Linked DNA regions of Homo sapiens. The protein of the gene in region 1 interacts with the protein of each later gene in a pairwise test. Each region holds a gene or a part of one and is shown on either strand. Other genes may lie near its edges.

The links.
Region 2: the proteins of ETFRF1 (region 1) and JPH3 interact in binary tests that used the Homo sapiens proteins (3 or more experiments, as listed by UniProt).

What each region holds. Positions count from the first base shown.
Region 1 is NC_000012.12:25,201,537-25,205,352, forward strand, and holds the end of ETFRF1 (electron transfer flavoprotein regulatory factor 1), read left to right. Parts: exon of another isoform or gene 1-2,296; intron 2,297-2,383; 5' UTR 2,384-2,420; coding exon 2,421-2,471; intron 2,472-2,554; coding exon 2,555-2,776; 3' UTR 2,777-3,607; downstream 3,608-3,816. UniProt on the Homo sapiens protein: Acts as a regulator of the electron transfer flavoprotein by promoting the removal of flavin from the ETF holoenzyme (composed of ETFA and ETFB).
Region 2 is NC_000016.10:87,643,769-87,647,584, reverse strand, and holds part of JPH3 (junctophilin-3), read right to left. Parts: intron 3,328-3,816; coding exon 2,550-3,327; intron 1-2,549. UniProt on the Homo sapiens protein: Junctophilins contribute to the formation of junctional membrane complexes (JMCs) which link the plasma membrane with the endoplasmic or sarcoplasmic reticulum in excitable cells.

The DNA.
Region 1 (3,816 bases):
GGGGGCTTCTAAGACTTTTGTTTCATAACTTGAATGATGGGTACCCAGATGTATATTTTACTTTAATTTGTACATTCATATTTTATGCAGTTTCTATGTCTAATACGTATAAAAATTTCAGATTAAATGAAATACATGAAGGCACTGGCACCCTGCCTTTCAAATTGTAAAAGGTGTAAATTTTGCAAAATGCCTAAAGGGGCAGGTGAGGTCACAATGAGAATCTACACTATTGTACTTCGGGGTTCAACCCAAACAGAAGTTAACAGGAGAACTTAAATTATGTAGCGCATGATTTTTAATTGAGTATGGTACTGTAATTTTAATCCACATTTTCTGCTAGTTAACTATAAAATAACCCTTAAAACTGATCTAAAAGCCTATTTTAAAAATATAAGTTGCGGCCGGGCACGGTGGCTCACGCCTGTAATCCCAGCACTTTGGGAGGCCAAGGTGGGTGGATCACAAGGTGAGGAGATCAAGACCATCCCGGCCAACATGGTGAAACCCCGTCTCTACTGAAATACAAAAAAAAAAAAAAAAAAAATTAGCCAGGCGTGGTGGCGCGCACACGTAGTCCCAGCTTACTGGGGAGACTGAGGCAGGGGAATTGCTTGAACCAGGGAGGTGGAGGTTGCAGTGAGCTGAGATGGCACCACTGCACTCCAGCTTGGGGACAGAGCAAGAATCCATCTCAAAAAAAAAAAAGTTGCTTCCTGCTTGCCTATCAGAGTAATTCAGTCCAAAAGTCATTACGTGGGGCTGAGCAAGGCAGGCATCTGGGGAAGGTGGGGGCGAGAGAAAGGCTGGCAAGGTAGTAGCCCAGCAGGGGATACTGGAGCCCAAATGCAGTGAGGAGGGCCTCTGGGGGTAGGGACTTGTGCACAGCAGCAGCCTAGCAGGGGATGAGGAGGGCATCCTATTAGGGTGAAGGAAATGGTGGCACAGGTTTTTGGAATGGGAACAAAAGGTGAGCCTTACCCAGGAGGGAGGAAATGGTGCAGTGTAAGTTGCTTGAGCCCAAGAAGGGTAGGTTGGGGGAAAGGGGGAAGAGAAGACCATGCATGTGGGATGGTGGCAGTGGCACTCTGGCATTAGGTGGCAGAGCTCAGAGAGTAGAGTGTGTGCGCCGAATGGTGACAGCAAGAGGATTTTGATTACATAGTGAGAGAAGGGGTGATGATTATAAAAAGTAAATTTATTAAGGACAAGTGGGAACCAGACTTCTCACTGTTCAGCAAGAGTATTAAACCCATGTAAAGAGGGGAAATGAAAATAAACCCTGTAGTATTGGAATTGAATGTTAGGTAGCAGATTATATGGAGATTAATATAAAAGTCATACACACATACAACACCTAAATCCGTATGTATATACACTTGCAGCTTTGTCACTTAGAGGACCTGGGAACAGTGACAGTCCCATGGTGATTAGCATTTTTAGCACCCAGACCTTGGTTTCTAAAGCATTCCATCCAGATTATAGTTTCTAAATGCTATTCTCCATTAAAAGGACTAGGTTCCTTGGAGAAATAATTTTACAATGGACAATCTTAGCAAATACATTAATTGGGTAATCAAAGTTATCAATCACAATGGAACAAATTGCAGTTGCATCCACCTGATAGGATGCAATGTTAAGAGCTTACTATTCAACTCTAACAGGTAGTGGGAATTATTTTCTAGGTTTAGACTGTCATGATGCCTTTAAGTTTGGAGCCTCCTCTACAAAGTAGAGTTAACACATTACACATAAAGAAGCATGATTTTGCCTGTTCCTCAGGGACACCCTCTTACAGGTTGTTCATTTGGCCTCTTCACCACCAATCTTACTGCCCATCTACTATTCCAACCTGCTTAACTCACCCAGTTTCTGCTAGTTTTCAGCCTCCCTTTGGATAAGCACCCATCAGCATTTGATCAGGCTTCTGCTCAATGTCCTTCAAGTGGCTCTGGCCTTGCCTTGAGAGCAGGGTAAAGATAATCTCTTGTTTGTTGATAAGGAAAACTCAGGCTCAGCAAGGTTAATTAATCTGTACATTATGCAACTGGAATTTAAATCTAGTTTAACTCATTCCACTGTGGCATAAAAGGAGGTACACGTACCTATCTGTGATGACAATCCACTTTCTCATTTCCTTCATGTGACTTCTCACAATCACAATTGTCTTTGCTTATGTCTCCCATAGGAAAACGTCAATTATGACAGCAGGTAATTTTATCGGAAGTGTTTATAACTATATCCCAGTACGTGGAACGAAAAAGTTATCAAGAAATATTTATTGAATGTAAAAAAGGTTACCATTTTCTCAATGTGTATAACCTTTTTTTATTTTTTTAAGACTACAATGCAGCTAATTGCAAAAAAATTTTCCTTTCTTTAGGTATGTTATGCATAAAAGTGGATAATTTACATGATAAATGAAAATGGCCAATTCTTTAAGAGGAGAAGTACTAAAACTTTATAAAAATGTAAGTAATTATGTTGCCAATTTTATAAAAATGTTATTATATGACATGGATTGTTTAGAAATATATAATCTTTCTTTTTGAAGCTGCTGTATCTTGGACGAGACTATCCAAAAGGAGCAGACTATTTTAAAAAGCGTTTGAAGAACATTTTCCTTAAAAACAAAGATGTGAAGAATCCAGAGAAGATCAAAGAACTTATTGCACAGGGCGAATTTGTAATGAAAGAGCTAGAAGCTTTGTACTTCCTTAGGAAATACAGAGCTATGAAACAACGCTATTATTCAGATACCAACAAAACTAATTGATCATTACTACTTTAATTTAGCTATCAGTGCCAGCTGTTTATGTATACCAGATGTTGTAAAATAATTCTAACTTAAAATGGGAAGATATACATGTTGTGTAAAAAATCCCTGAGCTGCCCTACTGAACTAAATAGGTTTCAACTTCTGTTCATACGGAGAAAGTATCAGCAACTTTATGCTCAATTTTGATACAAACATAGCAATTTAGCTATACTACCGATCATAAATTAATGAGCACCCAATTTTGAATGAAAATATAATACACTTAATCCTCTAACTTAATAGGACTTAGCCAATTATTTTTAGCTTATTTCTCCATTTTACTGACAAGAGAATGCCATTTACCGAACATTTAATAAGCAAAATAATTTCTTACACACTTACTTCTCTTAACTTTTGAAAGGAATCCCTTATTTTTTCACCCAATTTGGTATATTAACAGCACATACTCAAGGTTCACTACAAAACAAACAGTTCCTGGTAATGATTTAAATGTAGTTATAGAAATAAATAATATGTATGGAGTCATTACTTCTGACCTTGAAATAGCCTGCTGGTGACTGGCATTAACATACATAACTAACTATTCAATTATTTCCATTATTAATGTTGCTGCTGCTACCTTTGGGCCTAAAACCAAGTCACCTGTTGTGTATCAATTACCTTCTTTGATAAAAGGAAATAAATAAATAATGTTATCCTATTTTTTTGTCATAAAGGCAGATTTGTTTTGCATCTACTTCTAAATATGGTTTTAAGTTTAAGCAAACACGCCTTTACATAATATCCACAGCACCTTTTAGAAATAAAGGATACTTCTAACAAGCTGCATAAAAGATTCACTGGTATACTATAGTGTCTATGGCTTATAAAGTATTCCATATCCATTTCGGGGCAAACAGTTCAAATTTCATGAATAAATACACACTCATAGTCACTGTAACTATTTTTATTACATTACAATAATTAGGAGTAGTACAGTTCATGACAAAAATATTACAAATTTTAGATCACTTCACAGCACATACTCCTATAAACAT
Region 2 (3,816 bases), on another chromosome or scaffold:
GCGACGCCCGCTCGGGCGAAGGGACGGAGTCAGCTCGGACTCCGCCAGTGCAGAAGGCAAGCCGCAACCTGCCAGGGAGCATGGGCTGCTGGGCCTCAAAGGCTGTCGGGGGGTTGGCAGGGGGTGGGCTCCGTCAGTTTCACAGCTGCACCAGCCTGCAAACCCATCCTTTCCCTCTCACTCCCTCCACCCGTCTGTCTGTCCTTCTGTCCATTAAGTAAAATGCCTCCCCAGGAGACACAGGGATGCTGGCCATGCCAAGGCTGGCTGGCCAGCGTCCCAAGGGCTGGGGACTCAGTAGGAGCCGTGCCCACCCCACCCTGGCCCCGGCTCCTTTGCATGGGTCTCAGGTCTCGCCCTCCCGGCCCAGCCCCTGGGCTTTCACCCCAGCATGATGCCCACTTATACGTAGGCATCTCCCCCAGCAATGCTCCACAGAGCCCCTGGGCCCCCCAAAACCCCAGGAAGAGGTTGGATGCCCCAGGAAGGGAGCTGTTACCACCTAAGCTTCACAGGCCTTCAGAGATTAGAAGTTGAGGTCCAGAGAGGCTGACAACCTGCCTTGGAGCAGCTCCTCACCTGTGCTGCCCCCAGCCCTGTCCATGCCACCTGGGCTCCTTAATGGGAACCCGCTTCTCTTAATGTCTAGGGGAATTCGTCTGAAAACTATCTCAGGTCGCAGGTCCCCCCAGTCCTACAGACATCCACCCAGTGCCAAGGCTGTGAAATAAGCTCAGTCCTGCAGGGCACTGTCCACTAAGTCCTCGAGCTGCTGAGAACTCATGAACCAATGAACTCATGAACCAATCTGCAGGTCACACGGAAGCTGCCACGAGCTTCCTCAATTCCGTGACGCCGCTGTCCCCCAGCCCCCAAAACTGCTTCTTGTCCACTAGGGTCAAAAAAGCAACTATACAAAATAGAAAGGGTCGAAAAACAAAACACAGAGGAAAGAAATTCACCAAAATGCCAAGGAGAGCGCTCGGCCGATCCATCAGACCAGAGCTAATGCTGCTTTCTCCCTTCTCAGTGTTATTTATTTTCCTGTGGAACAAGTATTACATTTATGATGGAAAAAATAACTACTGATTCTAATTTGTTCTTAAAACCCCAGATGAGTAGTCACACGTGGGCTGCTGTTTATTTCCCTGCCTGAACATTTCTGAGGGAGCAGGGAGGGGCAAACAGCGAGTTTGGACCTCGGTGTCAGGTAGTAATTCCATGTTTCTTTCAGCTTCTTGGAATCGATCTTGATTCCCTCTAAAACAATAGAAGTCGCGAGCAACATATTCTGCCAACAAACCGCAGCCACCATTTTTGTTTTTCACTATAGATCAAAGGTCACTGAAAATCAGAACCAAATGGGCTGAACTTTAATTAGCGACAGGTCGGGAAGGGCTGAGCCGCACCCAGGCTGGGAGCTTTCCTGGAGGAACTCCAGGTCTGCCCCTGGCTGAGAACACAAAGCCATCCAGAAAGACGCAGGGGAACGTGCCCTGGGAAGCCTCCTGCCTGGGCAGCCCATGGACTCCCCCGCAGCTCCCAGATCCCTGCCCCAAGACTCTCCGGGCTACCCCAAGGGCCCTCGTCTGGCCCAGGAAAGCAAATGCCGGTGGAAAGCAAAGGCTCTGGGTTTTCTGAAATGCCTTCCCAAGTCTTGACAAAGCCCTTTAGTAACCTCAGTTACTTTAGAACCCAAATGCCTACCTGTGGGGCCCGTGGCTTTCCACAGGGGAACTTCCTCCAACCTGCAGCAGGTGGCTCCTGCCAGCCACAGCTTGGCGGGGACCAGCCCCTGGCTCACACACTCACCTCCACAGGAGCCAGACCCTGGGCACCTTCCTCCAGCCCTAAAGGCCCCATCCTGCACCCACCCCTAAAGGTACCCAAAAGCCACGTCGATCCCACCCACAGTCACCTCTGGACCCATTCCTTAGGGCCTAGAGGCCCCACTGGACCCCAAATTCCGTAAGTCATGCAGCCGATTCAGAACAGCGGCTGCCCCCAAAGCACCAGGCCTGCATGAGCCCCTTGCCAGGCACTCGGAATTGGCCTCCCAACTGCTGCCATCTCCCAGGGTCCCGGAAGAATCTAGATCGCAGGTCTGGGTAGCTGAGGCAGCTCCTAGCCACCTCCCACAGCCCTGCAGTGCTGGACCTGCCACCCCCACCTGGTGGTGTCACCCCTACTAGCTAGCACAGCAGCACTCCAATGCATTGTACTAACGGAACAGACCACCTTCTTTATTCACCAATATTTTACACTAAACATCAGCATATAGAACAAAGAGACACTGCTCAGTTTAAGGAGGCTGTAGGCCTCTACACCCCCACAAATCAACCATTCCTCTGCACCAATCCTGACCACAGTCACCTCTGAGAACCTCCAGGGAACCCTAGGGTTCCATGGGGGCATAGTTTGAGAAACACCAGTGTAGGCCTCAAACTGGGCCTAGCCCAAGGCCTTGAGCGACAGCAGGACTGAACAGACTGGGCTCACAAACACCTTCTGGGCACCAAGAAGGGCCCCCCGCCCCCTCGCCCTCCTACCTGGAAGCCGCGATCTCAGCCTTCTGCTTGGCGATGGTGGCGGCCCGCTCAGCGGCCTCAACGGCGCGGTCCACCTTCTCGCGGATCTTGCTGGCCCGCAGGGGGATGAGGTTCTTGCGCTTGCCGCCGACGAGGATGTTCTGCTTGTACTTGCCCTCCTCCTTGGTGCCGTCCGGGAAGGTCATGCAGCCGTAGCCATGGCGCCGGTTGCTGGCCCACTCGCCCTCGTACTTGAGCCCGTCCGAGCGCTGGCTCACGCCGAAGCCGGAGCGTTTGTCGTTCTTCCACTCGCCCACGTAGGTCTCGGTGGTGGTGGCGTCGATGTCGTCCTCGATGACCGCCAGCTCGGCCTCAGCCTCGCCCAGGCTGATGGTGGAGTGGATGTCGCTGGCCGTGGAGCTGACGGTGCTCATGCCCGCCTCGCTGCGAAAGGAGCTCTGCTTGCTGCGTTGGCTGGCCAGGCTGCTCTTGGACTCCGACTTGCGCAGCTTCAGCCCACTCAGCAGCGAGCGCCGAAACAGCCCCTTCTTCTTGCTCTTGAGGATCTCGGAGTCACTGTGGGCCACGAGCACGAAGCCCCCGCGGGACACGGCCGGGCTGCCGGCCACCGCCGGAGAGGCGTCGGGATGCAGCGCCGTGCCGTTGGTGTGCTCGCTGCGCAGGGAGTTGATGGACGTCCTCAGGGGTGAGCGGATGACCGCGGCCATGCCATACGGGACGCTCTGCCGGACGCCGTAGCCCTGGCGCATGCCACCGACCCACTGGCCCTGGTAGGTCCCTGGGGAGAAAATGAGAGAGGGGTGAGTGCCCAGCGACAGAGGAGGGGGCACAGCCTGGCCACGGACAGGGTTGAAGCAGCCACAGTCCTGTCTGAGCTTCCTGTTGTTTTGTGTTTTTTGAGACAGGTTCTCGCTGTGTTGCCCAGGCTGGAGTGCAGTGAGACCATCACAGCTCACGACAGCCAGGAACCCCTGGGCTCAGGCGATCCTCCTGCCTCAGCCTCCTGCGCAGCTGGGACTACAGGCGTGCACCACCATGCTCCACTACTTTGTAAATTATTTGTAGAGATGGCAGTCTCATTATGTTGGCCAGGCTGGTTTCTAACTCATGGGCTCAAGTGATCCTGCCTCAGCCTCCAGAAGTGCTGTGATTACAGTCATGAGCCACACCACTCCTGGTGTGCTATCTTGATGAAACCTGGTGAGGTTTGCGTGGAGGCAGACAGACCATGGTACCTTCCTACAACTTCTATCACCAGTGGCTGTTT